Linked DNA regions of Homo sapiens. The protein of the gene in region 3 interacts with the protein of the main gene of each other region in a pairwise test. Each region holds a gene or a part of one and is shown on either strand. Other genes may lie near its edges.

Region 1 (7,000 bases), about 85 Mb from region 3:
GGGAGGGGAGTGGGGACCGTGGCTCCCAAAGCCCTCTGTGGGACCCCCGTGGTCCCCACCCCACAGACACTTGGAGGGAGACTGGCTAGGCCCAGGCACCACAGGAAGGGCGGACAGCAGCTCCCAGGCTACAAGGGAGACCCAAGGCTCGGAAAGTGCGTGAGGACGCTGGGGTGTGGACTCAGGTCCCACCAACCCTGACTCGCCTGTCCTGAGGGTAAGAGGAAGCCCCTCACCCTAGCTGACCACCTGTCTGGGGAGGCCGAGCTGTCACAGCAAGGCCGCCAACACCCCTACCCGCCTGGGACTGTGTCTCAGGGTGCTGGGACAGTCTTGCTGAGAAACAGCCAGTGCCGGGGCCAGCGTGAGAGCCCAGGAGCCGACTTCCCTCCCCACCTTTCGAGGCTGCTGGGGCTTCAAGTCCTAGGGCGGGGCTCCCCGGAAGGGGAGGTCACCACAGGACCCAGGGGCCAGCTCTGCAGCCAGCAGAGTCCCTGTCGTCTGCCGGTGGCTCAGTCCCCATCAGCCCCCACCCGGAGGCCTGGATAGGGAGGGGCAGCATTGTAGGACTAGCCCCGAGACTTCTCCGGAGCTCCGTGAGCCCCCAGCAGGAGGTGAGAACCAAGAACATTGACTGGGATCTCATTTCCTGCCAACGCAGGGACACGGGAGCCATGCCCGACTTTATTCCATTAGGAGAAACCCAAGAACGCGGCGCTTCTTACCCTCCGGGGAACAGTTACACGTTCATCTCAAGTAGCGTCCTAGGCTCAGCACAGAACAGTGGGACCCCCGCCCCCAGCATCCCCGTCCTGCCCGAGCCAAAATGGTGCAGAGCTCTGTGGGAATTTGGGGAGTCTTCCCTCTGAGGACGGAGGTCTCAGAGCTCTACCCGGGGCGGCCACCTCATGAGACCAGCTCGGACACCAAGAGCCACTGCCCATCTTAGAGTCTCTCACGCTCGGACATTCTCCTGGCCTGTACCCCAGTCTGACCTTTTGGCAGGAGAAGGTCTGGGAGACGCCTGTACCCCAGTCTGACCTTTTGGCAGGAGAAGGTCTGGGAGACATGGCTACCCTCGGTGTGGCACCAGATAGTCCCTCCGTTTGTAAAGAGACGTTAGCAAGCAGATTCGGGGCACGCTGCGACGCCACCAGGCTGGGCTGCTGTGTCCTCCTCCTTGCTGGTCTAAGAGGCAGTGCTGAGCAGAGCGAGGCCATGGCCCTGGCCTGGGGCTTGGGGCACAGCTGGGTAGCTCTGGGTGGGTGGCCAGCCCTCCCAAGTCTGAGTTCCTGTCACACGGGGGTGTGGGTGGGCCACTCTGAGGTCTCAATGACTGCTTCTCTGTGGTCACTCCCCAGAAACAGGGCTGGGCTGGTTGGGTGTCCCCCGAGCAGAGCAGGGAATGGGCCAGAGAAGGTCTGTGTAGAACTGTGCTGACATCCACGTACCCACCTGACGCCCAGCCCCACCACCTCTCTCCCCGTGAGGGTCCTGTGTGGAGGGCAGCCCTGGCCCCATCAGAGGCCCCCAATCATGCCCACGGATCACCCACATCGTACCTCCTCCTTGGCCAGGATGGGACTTCCAAGGGGCTGGCATTCCTGTGCCTTAGACGCTATGGACCTAGCAGGCTGGGATCAAGGCCCCCCCCATCCCCCGATGGCGCCCCGGCCTTTCCCACCAGGTCGTCCACCCACTGCTGCCGAGATCAGGCCTGGCTGGCCCAGGAGACCCCACGCTAGAGGGGCCCCGACTCCCAGCACCACCAGCAGGAGGGCACCCTCAGCTAGAATGAGCTGCTGAGCAGGTAACGTTCCTAGAAGCCTCGTGGTGAGGATGCAGGGCGGGTCCTCGTGAAGCCCCTGCAGCTTCTTCCTGTGCCTTCAAGCCACCTGCGTCCTGCAGCCTCCGACGCTCAGTCCTCCTGCCTCTGGGGCGGGGGCGGATGGCACCGGAAGTGGCCTGGGCACTGGACACCGCATGGCCAGGCTCCTTCATGGTCCTGCCTTCACGTGGCCTTGGGCAGAACCCTGACGGTCAGAGTTCTCGGGCTGGGAGGCTGCCAGGGACCTCCCAGACAGGCAGCAAGAGGCTGGCGCCAGCCACTCTCTGCAGCCGAAGCGCTGGATGGTTTGCTTCTCTAGAAGCCGGCATGGCCCAGGCTTCAGAGCCTCGTTTTAAATCCTGATTCCACCACATCCTGCCTGAGCGCTCTGGCAACCCTGTTCCCCTCTTGGAGGCTCTGTTCTGTCATCTGTCATTGGTGACCTCAGCTCCTGGCTGTGAGGACGACTGAGGAAGGACCTGGACAGCTTCCCCCAGCCCCACCCCTCCCCAGCAGCCGAGAAGGCCCCGGGGTGCCTGGTCTGGGAACACTGATCCTGAATGCATCCAAGGCGGAAACAAGAAATGCTTGGATCAAATCTCATGCCAGTCCCAGCGCTTGTAAAAAACACACGGTCCCAACGCCCCCTCCAGGGAAGATGCTGCTCAGAGAAGGCTCCGGGGCGCCACCCAAAGAGGTGGCAGATCGGACCGAGGTGCTCAGAGTGAGCCAGGCTCCAAGGTGCAGCAGCAGGAGGTGAGGCCAACTTGGCCAGACCCTCGAGGACTGGACTCCCACCAGTGAGGCAGCAGCGGCCCCGTCTCTCCATCACAGCGGCCCCCACAGGGGCCCGCATCTGTATCATGAAGACAAGAACTGTCGGAGGAGGCAGCTTCAGGACTTAAAAGGTCAGCCCAAGGCCCCTCCTGCAGGGACCTGAGCCCTCCAGGAAGCATCTCCTCTGAATCCAGGACTGAGCCCTCCAGGAAGCATCTCTGACTCCAGGACTGAGCCCTCTGGGAAGCATCTCCTCTGAATCCAGGACTGAGCCCTCCAGGAAGTATCTCCAAGTCCAGGACTGAGCCCTCCAGGAAGCATCTCTGACTCCAGGACTGAGCCCTCGAGGAAGCATCTCTGACTCCAGGACTGAGCCCTCCGGGAAACATCTCTGACTCCAGGATTGAGCCCTCCAGGAAGCATCTCTGACTCCAGGACTGAGCCCTCTGGGAAGCATCTCCTCTGAATCCAGAACTGAGCCCTCCAGGAAGCATCTCTGACTCCAGGACTGAGCCCTCTGGGAAGCATCTCCTCTGAATCCAGAACTGAGCCCTCCAGGAAGTATCTCTGACTCCAGGACTGAGCCCTCCAGGAAGCATCTCCTCTGACTCCAGGACTGAGCCCTCCAGGAAGCATCTCCGACTCCAGAGTCTTAACTGGAATTCTCAGGGTGGGGGAGCCTGCACCCATTTCTTGGGACTGGAGCAGTAAAGCACCACGCGGGGGTGGGGGTAGAAACACCCAAAAGGCAAACTCGTGTTTCTGGAAGTTAGAAGCCGTGATCCAGGTGTCGGGAGTGCTGCTTCCTTCCAGGGTCTCCGCTCCAGCCACCCTCCAGCCACGGAGTCTCCAGTGATCTCTGACATCACTCCATCCGCCCCTGTCTCCTCCTCTTCTGTCTCTTCTAAGGACGCCGCGTGGATCTAGGACTCACCCCAATCCAGGCTGATCTTGTCTCAAAGTCTGTTCCATAATGACACCTGCACAGACCCTCCTCCCAAATAAGTCACGTTGGGAGCTTCCGGTGGATGCGTCTCTTGGGGGATTTGGCACAGGATGGAGGCTTCAATGTTCCCTGTCTGGTCCCCTTCCTTTCACACATGGAACTGAGGCTCTGAGAGGAAACAAAACAGGCCGCAGGCAGTGGAATGTGAGTCGCAGGCAGGGCTGGAGCTGAGGCGACCATGGGCCAGGGTTGGTACGTGGAATCCCATGCCGTCCTACGTGCATTCTGCGTGGAGTGGCCCAGCCAGGGTTCTGGCAGGTGCCCCCGACGGCACTGGCTTCCTCTCCAGCATCCCTGTTCCGTTCGTCCATCCCGCAGCACTGCACCCACTCCCCACATGCACGTGCACGCTACACGTGTGCCCCCAAGTGTGCGCCCCACCGCCTCCCAGCCCAGGCAGCTGGTCGTGGGCGAGGCAAGGAGGGGCCCCAGGGAGAAGGAAACTCAGGGCCTGAGGGCGAGACCATGGAGGATGCCAATGGCCACAGGGGCACGTGGCCCATTGCCCTCCCACTTGGACACTTTGGGGTGCGTGTGTCTGGAGGGGCCAGGAGAGTGGAGGGGACGCAGTGGAATAGAAGCTGCCCAAGGCGGTGGGGGTGCGGGGGCTCGTCCTCCTGACCTCCAGGCTGCAGCTGCAGGCTCTGCAGGGCCCGGCACTCGCCCAGTGAAGGCAAGGTCTTGGAGTGGTGGCGGACGGTCACCTCTAGAGATGATGTGGTCTCGCGTTCCAGTCAGGGGAGCGCCCAGCCCCGCAGCCCCCAGGCTGGGCTCCTCATCCTGTCCTGGTGGCCAGAGTGGCAGGCGTTGCGAGCAAGTTCAGGGCTGTGGTGTCAGGTGCGGACCTCCAGCGCGCAGAGCCTCATCCGAATACCGCTCACCGGTCAGAGCTCGGGTTGAGGGGGCGCGCTCCTAACCCCATTCTCTGGGGCCTCCTGGTGCAGAGGAAGCTTCCTCCAAGATGAGGTAGGAGATGGGAGGCAGCTGGCCACGGCCTCTCCGCCACCCACCCCACACCCTCCACGCCCCCGCCACTGTCACTGGGCCGTATCACCCATGATCCCCCCCTCGAAGGGAGGACGAGGTTCCTAAATCAGGCAGCAGCTTCCAGCTCTTTCCGAGGGGCACAGCGGGAGCTGCCATTTGTGACGCTGTCCAACCCAGCAGCCACTGGGTGTGTTTAATGGTAAGTTAGTTCACATCAGAGGCAGGTCAAGAGCCAGGACCGCAGACACACCCAGCTAATGGCTGCCACGCTGGACCCAGCAGATAGTTCCATCATCCCAGAAGGTTCTAGAACAACACTGGGGGAGGGCGGGCAGCAGACAGCACAGGCTGGGCAGGTGGGAATTCACCGTCAGGGACAGCCGGCAAGCAACACGCGGTGCCCCAAGGACTGTGGGAATGGGAGAGACCTGCCAAGACACATGTCCTGTGTCCCGGGGAGCCAGGCCAGGCCTTGGCACAAACAAGCACCTTCGGCGGGAGAGGAAGACACCGGGCAGGGGAGCAGCTGGGGCTGAGCCCATCTAAGCCTACCCGCTCTGGAGGACACATCTGCTGCCAGGACTGCCCAGCCATCCACGCACCCCCTCCCCACGATGCCAGTATCAGGCCCGGCGAGACTCACCGTTTTCCCGGTGCTGGAAGGAAGGGGAGAACTCTTTGGCAGTGATCCTGGCGATCCGCGCCTCCTCCTGGGCTTTCTGAGCTGCTGTGAGGGCTGCCTCGGCCTTTGCCCGAGAGTGGGAGGTCCTGGGGGAGACAGGGAGGAGCGTGAGGGGGGGCAGGGGGCACAGGTGACAGGGGTCTGGGTTGAGGTACTCTGCCAACCCCCCAACAACGGGCTGGGCTAAGACAAGATGCTGGCACCCCATGTTTACCCTCAGACTTCTGGATCTTGTTCGTTCATTCATTCATTCATTCAATAAACATCACTGAGCATCAACCAACCAGGCCCAGTGCACAGGACATGCTTGAAAACACCTCTGGGCAGGGCATGGTGGCTCACGCCTGTAATCCCAGCACTTTGGGAGGCCAAGGCAGGAAGATCGCTTGAGCTCAGGCGTTCACGACCAGCCTGGGCAACATGGCAAAAGCCTGTCTCTGCCAAAAATACAAAATTAGCTGGGTGTGATGGCACGCATCTGTGGTCCCAGCTACTCGGGACACTGAGGCAGGAGGATTGCTTGAATCTGGGAGGTGGAGGTTGCAGTGAGCTGAGATCGCGTCACTGCACTCCAGCTTGGGTAATAGAGCAAGACTCTGTCTCAAGGAAAAAAAAAAGGGGAGGGGCTGGGCACAGTGGCTCACGCCTGTAATCCCAGCACTTTGGGAGGCTGAGGCGGGCAGATCATGAGGTCAGGAGTTCAAGACCAGCCTGCACAACATGGTGAAACTCCGTCTCTACTAAAAATTACAAAAATTAGCCGGGTGTTGTGGCACGTGCCTGTAATCCCAGCTACTCAGGAGGCTGAGGAAGGAGAATTGCTTGAACCTGGGAGGCGGAAGTTGCAGTGAGCGGAGATCACGCCATTGCACTCCAGCCTGGGTGACAGAGCAAGACTCCATCTCAAAAAAAAAAAAAGAAAATGTTTCTGTTCTTATTATCAACAAACATCAGCATGTGCACAGAAAGAGTCCAAGCCCAGACAACCCACCCCGGCGGTGCCGGCCCGCTGTGCTGTGTGTGTCTGTGCTTCCTGCCACTGCCCCGGTGTGGGTTGCGGGACCACCTCCCTGCCCAGTAATCCCAGCAACTCTGACTTGGGAACCCAGGGCTTGGGCAGCTGGGCAGTTCCCTCACCCAGCCGAAAGATGACGCCGACACCCATGTGTGACACGAAGGAGCCATTGTACCTGTGGGCAGCCGGGCACGTCACCCCTCTGGCCGCTCCCTGACTGTGTCTCTCCCTCTGCTGAGTCCTGCAGGGGACCTGCCCACCCTTTGTAAGACAAGGGACTAGACAGACGTCCCGAAGGCAGAATGTGGGGCTCTGTGCATCTCAGCAGCCTGGGGCTTGCATTTCTTCCTACCTGGTGTGCTGGCCCCCGGGGGGGCCTGCCAGTGGCCATGGGCACCACTTCCCCAACAATGGGGAAACTGAGGCACAATGACCAATTCCCCCACGACAAATCCCCCCTCCGAGCAGACTCCCTGGGAGGTCTCCTGTTCACGGTTCCTGACTTAGCCTGTTGGGGCTGCAACAAAGCACCGCAGCTTGGGCGGCTCATCAATAGCAGACATTGCTTTCCCCCAGTTCCGGAGGCTGGAAGTCCAAGATCAAGGTGCCAGCAGATTTGGTGTCTGCAGAGGACCCACTTTCTGGGTCCTGGACAGCACCTTCCTGCTGGGTGCTCACATGGTAGAAGAAGCGAGGGTGCTCTCT
Region 2 (7,000 bases), on a different chromosome or scaffold from region 3:
CATTGCACTCCAGCATGGGCAACAGGGCGAGACTCCGTCTCAAAAAAAAAAAAAAAAAAGAAATGTGACTTAGTGAGTTTAAAATCAGTACCTGTAAAAACGTGCGATAATCTTCACTAGTAACTCCTCCTTCTGCCATTCTCATCCTCTCCTCCTCATCCAGCTGATGTGCAATTGAGGATAATTCCACAGGGCTAAAATATTCTCCTTGCAATAAGTTATTCAGGCAATGTTGAGCACAAAGTGAGCCTTCTTGCTAATATTTCCAAAAGAAAAAATTAAAATGTGACTTGTTAAACAGAATTGTATAGTATCTTCCCCTAAATAATTTTTTTTTTTTTTTGAGACGGAGTCTCACTCTTTCACCCAGGCCGGAGTGCAGTGGCGCTATCTTGGCTCACTGCAAGCTCCGCCACCCGGGTTCATGCCATTCTCCTGCCTCAGCCTCCCGAGTAGCTGGTACTACAGGCACCCGCCACCACGCCCGGCTAAATTTTTGTATTTTTAGTAGAGACGGGGTTTCATCCTGTGTTAGCCAGGATGGTCTTGATCTCCTGACCTCGTGATCCGCCCGCCTTGGCCTCCCAAAGTGCTGGGATTACAGGCGTGAGCCACTGCGCCCGGCTCCCCTAAATAATTTAATCATTAATTTTTTTTTTTTTTGAGACAGAGTCTTGCTCTGTTGTCCAGGCTGGAGTGCAGTGGAGCAATCTCAGCTTACCACAACCTCCGCCTCCCGGGTTCAAGTGATTCTCCTGCCTCAGCCTCTCAAGTAGCTGGGACTACAGGCATGCACCACCATGCCTGGCTAATTTTTGTATTTTTAGTATATACAGGGTTTCACTCTGTTAGCCAGGCTGGTCTCAAACTCCTGATCTTGTGATCCGCCTGCCTCGGCCTCCAAAAGTGCTGGGATTACAGGTGTGAGCCGCCACACCTGGCCAACTTTTTTTTTTTTTTTGAGATGGAGTCTTGCTCTGTCACCCAGCCTGGAGTGCAGTGGCATGATCTCGGCTCACTGTAAGCTCTGCCTCCTGAGTTCACGCCATTCTCCTGCCTCAGCCTACCAAGTAGCTGCGACTACAGGTGCCCACCGCCATGCCCGGCTAATTTTTTGTATTTTTAGTAGCGATACGGTTTCACAATGTTAGCCAGGATGGTCTCGATCTCCTGACCTCGTGATCTGCCCACCTTGGCCTCCCTAAGTTCTGGGATTACAGGCAAGAGCCACCCTGCCAGGCCCCTACTATGTTTTAACATAGTTGAACTGAACTTTCAGCTTTAGATAAGGATAATTAACATAGGTACATGCATTTTCATTTGGTAACATTTATTTTACAAATCTACCATTAATGAAACTATAATTACATGATCAAAAATTTAAGAATTATTTTAAACAAACATCATCTATCAAATGCATCAAATCTCATATTTTACTAAAAACTACTGTATAAAACATTTAGTCTCCCTCATTTTCAGTACCTAAAATAAGTTCATTCTTGGAGATTCTACAGTAAATTACTAATGGTGAAAGGAAATTTTAGTCCCTAGAACAGTTATTTATTTATTTAAAAAAAGAGATCTCACTATGTTGCCCAGGCTGGACTTGAACTCCAGGGCTCAAGGGATCTTCCTGCCTCAGCCTCCCGAGCAGCTAGAACTACAGAAACATGACACTGTGCCCAGCTCCCTAGAACATTTATTCTTTTAACATGATGATGTCAGTCAAGCATGGTGGCTCACACCTGTAATCCCAGCAGTTTGGGAGGCCGAGGTGGGTGGACTGCTTGAGGCTGGGAGTTCGAGACCAGCCTGACCAATACGGTGAAACCTCGTCTCTACTAAAAATACAAAAATTAGCCAGCATGGTGGTGTGTACCTGTAGTCCTAGCTAATCAGGACACTGAGGCATGAGAATCGCTTGAACCCAGGAAGTAGAGCCTGCAGTGAGCCAAGACCATGCCACTGCCACTCCAGTCTGGGTAACAGAGCAAGACTCTGTCTCCAAAAATAAAAATAAAAAAATCTCCACACAATCTAAATGCTTGTTGATAGAACTTCAAATCTTAAGAATTAATACAGGTGAGAAAAATTCTGTTCCATGTTAAAACTTGCAGTTACAGTGCTGAAGTTCTCTTCATGGAACTCTACAGATAATGTATACACAGTGTAAAGCAATGAGCAGAACTGTCCCAAACAACCCTGGAGCTCACTCCTGGACAAGCCAGCAAGAGGGACTGCACCCAAGCTCAGCTCCCATGGGATGACAGGATTCCTCCTCATGGGAGGTAGGTACAACTTCTCATGGGTTCAGGGCCTTCAGGTGCTGGGCAGTTTCTCACACAACTGGCAACCTGAATCCAAGTCCAGGGTGCCTGGTACTAAGTAGCCTGCGTGTGACCCTCCTCCCCGCAACAGTGTAGCTTTCCCATGCTACCTGATAAGAAGGGAGAATCACAGATGGATGGATCCCTCCCTGTGAACACAGACACCAGGTTTGCCCCTCCCTGAATTGACGGCAGATGAGAGAACATTTCCTTCTCCTGCTAACCTTGGCCCTCCAAGTTCTCTCTTTCCCCAATAAGGTCTATTCCTTAACCCAACCTATCTGACATCACACAATTTGTCCTGAGCTATGTCACACAGCAGACTCTAAAGAGAACCACCTTGCAAGACGGATATTTTTCCTGATGAATCAATTTTCTAGGAGCAAAATTCAGCTGGTGAAAAAAATATGGGTTATATGTGTATAATGGAATAGGAAGACAACATTGAGACAGCCTCAGTCTGAGATAAGTTTATCTTCAACTTTTCGTAAGGAATAAGTAGCTTGGAGCTAGAGAGAACACTATCCCCCAAGTCTTCTCATGAGAATAGACTTTTTGTTTCCACTTCTTTCTCCTCCTTATATATTTCTACTACCAGAGTGCAACTCTTACTGAATAATATGCAAATTGAAGGGATATACAGATGTTCTACTTATATCCTTTTGAAAAATAGCCAAGGCTGGCTGCGGTGGCTCATGCCTGTAATCCCAGCATTTTGGGAGGCCAAGGCAGGAGGATTACTTGAGCCCAGAAGTTTGAGACCAGCCTGGACAACATGGTGAAACCCCATTTCTACAAAAAATAAAAAATTAACTGAGCATGGTGGTGCGTGCTTGTAGTCCAGCTTCTTGGGAGGCTGAGAAAGGAGGATAACTTGAGCCCCAAAAAGGTCGAGGCTACAGTAAGCTGAGACTGCACCACTGCACTCCAGCATGGGTGACAGGGCAAGACCAAGAAAGACAGAAAGACAAGAAAGACAAGAAAGAAAGACAGAAAGAAAGAAAAGAAGGAAGGAAAGAAAGAAGAAAGAAAGAAAGGAAGGAAGGAAGAAAAAGAAAGAAAGAAAAGAAAAATAGGCAAGACAAACAAGCACTTCACAAGACAGTCAAATGGCTATAAAGAACACAAAAGAGGTACTCAACTTTATTAGTCATCAGGGAAATGTAAATTAAAACCACAATGTGTTAGTACACAAACTCTAAAATGGCTAAAATGTTGGAGATTAGAGATACAGAAACTGTTGTATACTACTGATGAGAGGATAAATTGGTATAACCAATAATAACTAATAATTATGTAATGCATCCACTAAAGCTTAATATATACATCTCCTATGATCTAGCAATTCCATTACTAGGTACATAATGTAAACAACAGCAATGCAAACATACATTCATCAAAAGACATGTATAAGAATGTTCACAAAAGCAGTATTTTTGTGCCACAAATAGCATTACTATTTGTAGTAATACAAAATAGCATTACAGATAGCATTACTATTTGTAATGGACCCCAAACTGGAAACGACCCAAATGGATAGCTGGGATCACAGTAGAATGGAAATTGTGTTTACTCACAAAAGAATACTAGATAACAATGAGGATGAATTAACTACAACAGTAGTTAATTAACAATAATTAACAGTAGTTAATTCTGGAACAGTATGGATAAATTTCTCAAACAATGGTAAACTAAAGAGGACAGAATCGAAAGGGTATATACACTGTACACTTCCAGTCACAAAAGCTCAAAATCAGGCAAAACTCATTTATGATGTCAGAATTCAGCATAGTGGTTATATTTGGTGGGAATGCAGTGGAGAGACAGTACCTAGAAAAGGGAATAATGGGAGGTTATAGGATGCAGGTAAATCTTTTGTTACTTGCTGTTTACACATGTTCACTGTGTGAAAATTCGCTGAGCTGTACTCTTAATGATTTGTGTGCTCCTCTCTGTATTGTATCTAATTTTTAAAAAATTCAAACAGTAAGAAAAAAGCCTTTGCTAACACAAATTTCCTGTCTTGCTGTCAGTTTGGAGTTTACAAACTATGGTCACCATACTTAATACCATATATAGCAATAGTGACATCCAAATATTTGATTAAAATTCTCTCTATAAAAAATAGCTTTAAATTATGAAAAATAAGTACTTGAAATCAAACTTCATCAAAGAAAAACTGTATTGCTACAGGAAATATCAAGTTCTGTACTTCTAATATGATTTAATGGAAGGAAAGGACAAACTGTTCAGTACAAATTTAAAAATCACTTAAGGCTAGGCACAGTGGTTCATACTATAATCTCAACTGTTTGAGGGGCTGAGGTGGGAGGATCACTTGAGCCCAGGAGTTCAAGGCTACACGGAGCTAAGATTGTGCCACTGTATTCTGGCCCAGGTGACAGAGCAACATCATGTCTCTCAAAAAGACACAAAATAAATAAAAATAAAAACAAAAATAAACATAACTTAAGTCATAGGACGGATCAAATTCCACATGGACCAAAAGAATTGTACAATGACAATGAGCCCACGTAAGATTATGCATTTTCCTGCCTTGCCCTTATCTCAAACTATCCCCAGCCACCTCTCTCATCAAGCTTTAATCAAAGCAGAAGTTCACTTTGCCATAATCAAAGTTCAGCGGTATTGAAATCTCATGATTTGGCTGGGCATGGTGGCTCATGGCTGTAATTCCAGCACTTTGGGAGGCCAAGGCAGGTTGATCACTTGAGATCAGGAGTTCGAGACCAGCCTGGCCAACATGGTGAAACCCCGCCTCTACTAAAAATATAAGAATTAGCCAGGTGTGGTGGCAGGCGCCTGTAGTCCCAGGTGCTCAGGAGGCTAAGGCAGGAGAATCACCTGAACCCAGGAGGCGGAGGTTGCAGTGAGCTGAGATTGCACCACTGCACTCCAGCCTGGGTGACAGAGTGAGACTCTGCCTCAAAAAATAAAAAATAGGCTGGGCGTGGTAGCTCACGCCTGTAATCCCCGCACTTTGGGAGGCTGAGGCAGGTGGATCACGAGGTCAAGAGATCAAGACCATCCTGGCCAACATGGTGAAACCTCGTCTCTACTAAAAATAAGAAAATTAGCTGGGCATGGTGGCACATGCCTATAGTCCCAGCTACTCGGGAGGCTGAGGCAGGAGAATCTCTTGAACTCAGGAGACGGAGGTTGCAGTGAGCTGAGTTCGCGCCACTGCACTCCAGCCTGGTGACAAAGTGAGACTCTGAAGAAAGTTCGTGCCACTGCACTCCAGCCTGGTGACAGAGTGAGACTCCAAAGAAAGAAAAGAAAGAAAGAAAAGAAAGAAGGAAGGAAGGAAGGAAAGAAAGAAAGAAAAGGAAGAAAGGAAGAAAGGAGGGAGGGAGGGAATAAATAAATTAAAAACAAAAAAAAAAATAAAAGAAATTCTATGATTTTAGGCCCAGACTTCATTGTGTTGGGCTCAGAGAATTAGCAAACTGCAGTTCTACAAAGATAATGTATAAAATCACAAAAGAGAACTGCTACCAAATCATTTACCCCCAACCTCCCCAGGTTTTCAAGACCAACCTGAAACTAGTTCAAATTACCAGAGACACTACTAACTACAACACAAATCAGGTATAAACCTAAGGTGCTCTCGGGAATGGGCTATCTGGGGACAAGCTGTCAATCTAGCAGCATTTCTCACCTCCTCTTAGTGCTCTCCGAGCCCTTACTATGAGGTTCAGCAAACACAAGCACCTGAGTAATGGCAATGGCCAGTACTTCTACAGCACTATCTGCCAGGGAGCCTTCTCTACACTCTAACTCTCAGGTTATGTCTATGTTATTATCCCCACACTACAGAGGAGGAAACTAGAGGACAGGGATACTAAGTAACTTGCTCAGGATCACACAGGTAGTAAAAGGCAGAGCTGAGACTCAAACCCAGGCAGAGGTTTCAAAACCTGTGCTATTAGCACTTCAAGTCATTTATACAGAATTTGGCTTCTCCTAAAGCTCAAATGTCCTAAAGATGGCTAAAATCCAGCAATCACAAAAGGGCATAATGAATGCCACAGAGTCAATGCTCAGCATCTTTTCAATCTTTTCAATAATTTTATGTACAACCCCAGCAAGTTTAGATATTATTACCAGTTTGCATTACATTAAAAGCACCAATACAAATGGCACAGTAACTGCACCAAGAAACATCAGCAAGAGGATTAAAAAAAAAAAAAAAAACAAAGCAGGCACCAGAACTAAAACAAACAACAACAAAAATCCAGTAGTGGTCATAAAGTTAGTACAAAGGTTTAAGTTAGGGGTTGGCAAACTCTAGCCCATGGGCCAAATTCAACCTGCCCCAGTAGCTAAGAATGCACTTTACATTTTTACATGGTTGGGAAAAACATGCACAAATAAGAATGTGTGACAGAGACTACAGCTGGCCTGCAAAGCCTTAAAATATTTACAGAAAACTTGTTTACTTTAGATAAACAGCACCATATATATCTCAGAAACTCAAAGCCATCTCTTTATCCATTCAAATATATACATTTTTTTCTTTTGAGACAGGATCTTGCTCTGTCCCCTAGGCTGGAGTGCAGTGGTGCGATCATGGCTCACTACAGCCTCGACCTCCCAGACTCATGCAATCCTCCCACCTCAGCCTCCCAAGTCTACAGGCATGTGCTAAC
Region 3 (7,094 bases):
GGGACTGCATTCGCTTTACATGATTGAAGCTGCTGGCGTGGAAGCTGTGCCATGTCATGTAAAGCATGCAGTGGGAAAGCAGTGGGGTGGGGGCGTCTTTGTATTACATCATCTGTTGTTGCCGTTTCAAAAATCCAGAGGCCTTTCTACACTTCAGTTGGATGTTGATTTCAAAATGACCGATGTTTCTTTCTGACTCATGAAGGCTGCTGTCTTTGGAATCTGACATTAGAGGGAAGCGAAACTTTACAATGTGTGGGGCAGCCTGGTGTGGTGGCTCAGGTCTGTAATCCAGCACTTTGGGAGGCCAAGGATGGCGGATCACTCGAGCCCTGGAGTTTGAGACCAGCCTGGGCAGCATGATGAGACCCCATCTCTACAAAAATTAGCTGGACACGGTGGTGCACACCTGTGGTCCCACTACTCAGGAGGCTGAGGTGGGAGGATCACTTGAGCCTAGGAGGTCGAGACTGCAGTGAGCTATGATCATGCCACTGAACTCCAGCCTGGGAGACAGAGTGAGACCCCGTCTCAAAACAGAAAAAAAGTCACCAGGCATGGTGGCACATGCCTGTAATTGCATCACTTTGGGAAGCTGAGGCAGGCAGATCACTTGAGTTCAGGAGTTCGAAACCAGCCGGGACAACAAGCAAAACCCCATCTCTATTTTTTCAAAATTTGTGTATATAAAATTTTTGTATGAAAGCTGTGTGGTACATGTTTAGCTGTTTTATGTTTCACTTTCTGGACATGAGTGTGATCCTCCCTGCTCTTGCAGTGCCATCTAAGCTGTCATCAGTTTTCCTGGGCGAGTGATGCATCTCCCCAGCTGGTCTGTCTGAGCCCCTGGCCAGCCAAGGGGCTGCCCTTGACTCTCCCGGCACCCGCCCGTCTCTGCATAGCCACCCCCACCACTTTAACTGGATGGTTTTGTATTGAGGTCAGGCTGGACATCAGCTTTCTATGGGCAGGGACCGTGTCCTCTTATTGGCTGAGTAATTGGGTCCATAGCGTAGGTAAGTCACCTCCTTTAAGAGACTTTGATAAGCAAAATAGTGAATATATTCTTTTTATTTATTTACTTATTATTTTTTATTTTTGAGGCAGGATCTCCCTCTGTCGTCCAGGCTGGAGTGCAGTGATGTGATCTTGGCTCATTGCAGCCTCGACCTCCCCGGGCTTAGGTAATCCTCCTACCTCAGCCTCCCAATTAACTGCGACGACAGGCACATGCCACCGTACCTGGTTAATTTTTATATTTTTAGTAGAGGTGAGGTTTTGCTGTGTTTGCCCAGGCTGGTCTTGAACTCATGGGCTGAAGTGATCCACCCACTTTGGCCTCTGCGCCCGGCCTATTTTTTTTTTTTTTTTTTTTTTTTGAGACGAAATTTCACTCTTGTTGCCTAGGCTGGAGTGCAATGGCATGCTATCAGCTCACTGCAACCTCTGCCTTGCAGGTTGAAGCGATTCTCCTGCCTCAGCCTCCCAAGTAGCTGGCATTACAGGCATGCGCCAACAAGCCCGGCTAGTTTTTTTGTATTTTTAGTAGAGACGGGATTTCTCCATGTGGTCAGGCTGGTCTCGAACTCCTGACCTCAGGTGATCCTCCCGCCTCTGCCTCCCAAAGTGCTGGGATTACAGGCCTGAGCCACTGTGCCCGGCCTAATTTTGTATTTTTAGTAGAGAAGGGGTTTATTCGTGTTGGTCAGGCTGATCTTGAACTCCCGACCGCAGGGGATCCACCCGCCTCATCCACCCAAACTGCTGGGACTACAGGCATGAGCCACCAAGCCCGGCCGTTTTTAGCGTTTAAAAGGATTGCAGCTTGGCTGGTGGCAGTCCCTCTGTCCTGGCACAGACGCAGGGGGAGACCCTGTGTCTTCAGACAGCATGGACTTCAGGACCCTACTGAGAGATGGAATCAAGAGCTCTCCGGGGTTCTTTGAGTGGGGAGTTGTATCGGAAACCACCATCAGCGCGCCTGAGCTCGCCTCGCATTGTTCTTCTGTAGTGCGGGGGGCCACTGCCACCACCGTGAGGACACGTTGGGGTCTGGGGAGGGATTGTTATGGCTGTGGGTGCACCTTGCACGTCTTGCCGACCTAGCTTTGCACGCTGATCTTCCCTCCGTGCCCGCTTACATTGTTAACTGGGTTTCTGCCCTCCCTCCTCTCCTTCGTATTTCTGTGTCTCATTGACAACTGTTCTGTAGTCGCTTTGTTGACAGTTGCCAAACTGCTTTCCAAAAACATTTCCACTGCAATCCCGGTTTTTGGTGCCAGCCGCAGTGGTGTGAGTGCGCTCGCTTTATTATAGTCTTGCCAGCACTGGGCGTCTCTGTGTATTGTAAACACATGCGATCATCACTCTTATCTCTCCATCCCCCCCACAATTAAAGATGTGCCGTGCTATCTCTGCTCAGGTTACCTTGGCCTTGGGATGAGTTGGCTGGAGGCTCAGGCAGCGCGAGGGACAGGAGGAGGGCGAGGCGCTGCCTGGTGGATTAGCGGGGAGCCATGGCACGGGCAGGACTCAGGAGAGGAGGCCGGCAGCTCACAGCAGACCGCGGGGCTCAGCTGGCCTGCCCTGTGCTTGGGGTTTGTTTTTGAGCGTTGAAATGAGGTCCTTAAACCTTAGTCCGTGCATTGAGAGCAAGGCAGCTGCCTTGAGCCTTACTTCCTTTTCCTCTTTGTCGCCTAGTATGACGCCGTGCCCATCCAGTCCAGCGTGGTGTTATGTTCCTGCCCATCCCCATCAATGGTGAGGACCCAGACTGAGTCCAGCACGCCCCCTGGCATTCCTGGTGGCAGCAGGCAGGGCCCCGCCATGGACGGCACTGCAGCCGAGCCTCGGCCCGGCGCCGGCTCCCTGCAGCATGCCCAGCCTCCGCCGCAGCCTCGGAAGAAGCGGCCTGAGGACTTCAAGTTTGGGAAAATCCTTGGGGAAGGCTCTTTTTCCACGGTGAGTATTTGCTGCTGCTGTGTGTCAAACGTACGTGATTTCCTTGGGGAGGCTCACCTTCCTCGGGGCTTGCCGGAGACTCCAAGCAAGGCTGGTGTCCTTCCAGGCAGGAGGTCTCAGGCCCCTTGAGGGGTGTCACCTGTTGTGAAGGCCACTTGAGTCTTTGGGGGCTGGGTACCCCCCAAGCAGATGACGTGATGAGTGTGGCTAAATATTTAACCTGGTTTTGTAGATGAGAACGTTAGACACATCTCTTGATGGTCTGCGGAGGTTTTTTCTGATGTAGTTAATTTCATTTTAACCTGGCATCAGCAAGTTACATTCTGTGTCCTTGTGTCTCACTGGCAGGGCCCTGGGAAGCTGTTCTTTTTCTTAGATTGAAAGTTAGTATCTCTCCAGGGTTTTTGGGGACATTTATTGACCTCTTCTTATTTCTCTGTTTTGTTTTTTTGAATACATAAAACAGTACGCTCTGGACATTTGCTGGAGACACAGCCTCCAGAGTCTTGTGTTCCGAGTTTCACAAACAGGAGTATTGTCGCAGTACTGTCAAGTCACACTTGTTACCTGTCTTCGGGGTGTTTTTTCCTCTGAAAGCAAAGAAATGAAGGTCGAAAGCAGCTGACATGGGACGTTTTGCTGACGTGGGACCCATGAAGCCGTGTGTGGTTGTGGATTTAGTGAAGGTTGTAACAGGTTCAGGGGAGGCCTGAGCAACTCGGGGTGTACTGTCTCCATCTGGGCCTCTAAAGAGACAGAGTCCCGTGCCGCCACTGTGGTCGCCAAGGTGGCCGCCGTGTGCGTGCTAGGGCCATTCCAGGGAGCCCTGGGGGCACCTCACTCTGGAGGGCCTGGGTGAGTTCCTGAATAATTCTTTCTTGCCTGACCTTTGTGAAGAAACCGTAGGTGAGGTTTATTTTCCTTTTTTCTCTTTTTTACACATAGGAAATATTTCACAATGCAAAGAAAAACATGAAATATAGCTTACCCATATTCCCAACATATTGTTTTAATTAATGTTAACTTTTGCTGCCCTTACACTTTAGATTTTTTAAATTGCAGGTTTTATGAAATAATTTTTTTATAAAAGGATTATGCCCTCATGAAAAATGCCTTCAACCATGAGACTAGTCCCCAAAGTTTTGGGGACTCAGATCCTTTCAGAAAGAAGAAACTCTTTGGAAAACCTTGGGCATTCTGCATGGCTGCTTACAACCACCCAGTGAAAGAACAGGCCTCCTCTTTTCTCAGCTTTACCTGTTTTTTGAGACAGAGTCTTGCTCTGTCACCCAGGCTTGAGTGCAGTGGCATGATCATAGCTCACTGCAGCCTCGACTTCCTGGGCTCAAGTGATCCTCTTACCTCAGCCTCCCAAGTAGCTGCAGTTACAGGAATGCACCACCGTGCCCAGCTAATTGTAAAATTTTTTGTAGAGACAGGGTCTCACTTTGTTGCCCAGACTGGTCTTGAACTCCTAGGCTCGAGTGATTCTCTCCTCAGCCTTGCAAAGTGTTGGGATTACAGGCGTGAGCCACTGTGCTTGGCCTCAGTTTTACTTCCTTGTATGTCTCTTTTTAATTTAACTTTATTTTATTATGTATGTATTTATCCTTTTAGAAACAGAGTCTTGCTCTGTCACCTAGGCTGGAGTGCAGCGGTGTGATCATAGCTCACTGCAGCCTTCACCACCTGGGCTTAAGCGATCCTCCTGCCTTAGCCTCCTGAGTAGCTGGGACCACAGGCATGTGCCACCATACATGGCCCTTAACATTTATCTTGACTGAAAAAGGAAGACTCATCTGTGAAATTGCCTGTTTCCCTGGGTTCTGGAGATGGGTGGAGAGCAGGCACTGTCCCTCCAGGGGCTGTGGTCCGTGTCTTTCTGAACCTGCACCAGGGAGGTGCCCGGGAGAGCACGGTGAGCCGGAGGCTCCTCCATGGGGCTGTTTGGAATCCACAGTACTGGGTCTCAGATTACATGTGTTACCCTCAGTTCTTTCTCAGCTTTCCTGAAATGGAGATCACATAAAAGTTGATTTCCAGGGGAGGGGGAAAGGACAGTGATAGGAGGCTGGGCAAGAGCCAGCTGCAGCACCGGAGAGCCGGGAGGCCCCCTGAGGACGGTCACAACCTCCAGGGAGGGACACGTCACGCGCCATTCTCTGGAAGAGGATCCTTCCTTCTTGTAGGAAACCTGCTTGTGAAGTGTTGAGTTTAGACAACGGAAAGATCACATCAGTATCCCCTTAGAAAGGGTTCCACTAAATATCGGTGCTCGTTCACAATTCTTTCTTCCTCTTTTCTACTTATGAAGCTAGCACGTGCTCTTGTGGAGAAACGTGACCTCACAGAAACACATGAGCTAGAGAGGGGAGCCCTGCCCGGCCCACTTCCCCTTTCTCCCTGGCAGCTGAGAGCCATCCATGCGTGGCGTATTCCTCTGGGAAGACCTTGAGTATGTAGAGTCCCCAGAATCCAACTTCATTCTTCTTGAGTGCCACAAGGCGTCTCACATGGTGCTTTCCAGGATCTCTTCTGACGTGTCCCATCAGGAGTCCTGCCCCGATTGCGGCTCACAGCCCGGGGCCAGGTGGACCTGGCCCTGTGGCCTCCTGAAGGTCTTCCTGCCAGCCCCCAGGAATGTCACGGGACAGGTTTCCTCTGCTCCCTGCTCCTCAGGCCGTCCCCCTGTGGGTGTCTTAGGAGACACTTGTGTCCCACTTGGTGGTGGTGGGGCCTCCCTGGCACAGCTGCCTCATGCTCTCTGGCTAAACCGTGGGCCCACCAGGAATCTCCAGTCTGGTGCCTCAGGGTGTGCCCCAGGCTAGTCCGAGTGGAGGGTCTCTCCCCTGTTTGGGATGCCTGCCCTGCTGGAGTGCTCTGTCTCGGAGGTGGGGTTTGAGTGCAGGGCTCAGGGGTGCTGAGAGGACAGGGCAGGAGGCCTGCTGCATCCCGGGCAGGTGGCTCCCTCTTGTGGGCACGCAGGGCCATGCATTGCTGGTTTAGCTCCCTCTGTCCTTTACAGCCAGGCTCTCTTCATGGTGCCCACAAGCAACATCATACAAAATGTATGATAACAGTTATTTCCAAAAACGAAACTTCAGGGCAGCCTTTGCAATGAATGTATACTAGAAGGACATATTGTTGTCACAGAAGCCCCTGTGCCCTGCCACTTGTGGTGGCGCCACTGTCTTCCTTCTGTTGGTGAAGGGCGTGGCAGTCGAAGAGGTTCCTGAGTTTGTACTTGTGTTGCACCGTTAGGGCTGTTAGCAGCTGATCCAGAAGCTTCTGGAAACAACAGAGAGATGGATATGTTTTCTCTTAGCTGTTAGAACACATCAACACGAGCATTGGCTTTTAGCTCTACTTGTCAGTACAAGACCCAAAATATTTCACTGTAGACTCAAGCCTTCAGTGGGGACAGGAAGCGTGCGTGTGGGGCAGAGGGACTCGTCAGGCCCAGTGTCCTGGTTATTACATTGTGTGTTTCTTTTTCTCCTTTTCTTTCCCAACCAGGTTGTCCTGGCTCGAGAACTGGCAACCTCCAGAGAATATGCGAGTGAGTATGGGCTGCAGGGAGCTGTGCGTCCGGGAGCAGGGCAAGCGGCTCCGTGCAGGGCGGCTGGGGTGGCAGGGCCGGTGTTTCTGTGCTGATTTCAGGGTACAGGACACTGTTGGCTTTAGAGACCACCAGGCTGTTGTGTACAATGTTTGAAAGACTTTAATTTGTACCAGTTACCTTTGTGAGTCATGTCTTTAGTGTTTTTTGTTGTTTCTGATAGTAACTCACTTCTCTCTCACCTGAAGTTAAAATTCTGGAGAAGCGACATATCATAAAAGAGAACAAGGTCCCCTATGTAACCAGAGAGCGGGATGTCATGTCGCGCCTGGATCACCCCTTCTTTGTTAAGCTTTACTTCACATTTCAGGACGACGAGAAGCTGTGTATCCTTTGCGTGGTTGGTGCCGTCTGAAGCCACACCAGTCACCCCTCTCACTTGGAATCAGACCCTGTGTGTTCCCACAAGCAGCCCCCGCTCCCTGCCGAGTGGGGTCCCTCAGGCCGCTGACATTCAGGGAGGCAGCCGAGGCAGCGCCAGGGTGTGGCTGGGAGTCTGCACAGGACGTTACCT

The links.
Region 1: the proteins of PDPK1 (region 3) and JPH3 interact in binary tests that used the Homo sapiens proteins (3 or more experiments, as listed by UniProt).
Region 2: the proteins of PDPK1 (region 3) and ATXN3 interact in binary tests that used the Homo sapiens proteins (3 or more experiments, as listed by UniProt).

Annotation. Positions count from the first base shown.
Region 1 is NC_000016.10:87,682,508-87,689,507, reverse strand, and holds part of JPH3 (junctophilin-3), read right to left. Parts: intron 5,367-7,000; coding exon 5,242-5,366; intron 1-5,241. UniProt on the Homo sapiens protein: Junctophilins contribute to the formation of junctional membrane complexes (JMCs) which link the plasma membrane with the endoplasmic or sarcoplasmic reticulum in excitable cells.
Region 2 is NC_000014.9:92,096,583-92,103,582, forward strand, and holds part of ATXN3 (ataxin-3 reference isoform), read right to left. Parts: intron 257-7,000; coding exon 92-256; intron 1-91. UniProt on the Homo sapiens protein: Deubiquitinating enzyme involved in protein homeostasis maintenance, transcription, cytoskeleton regulation, myogenesis and degradation of misfolded chaperone substrates.
Region 3 is NC_000016.10:2,555,003-2,562,096, forward strand, and holds part of PDPK1 (3-phosphoinositide-dependent protein kinase 1), read left to right. Parts: intron 1-2,700; coding exon 2,701-2,961; intron 2,962-2,977; exon of another isoform or gene 2,978-6,477; coding exon 6,478-6,520; intron 6,521-6,743; exon of another isoform or gene 6,744-6,768; coding exon 6,769-6,906; intron 6,907-7,094. UniProt on the Homo sapiens protein: Serine/threonine kinase which acts as a master kinase, phosphorylating and activating a subgroup of the AGC family of protein kinases.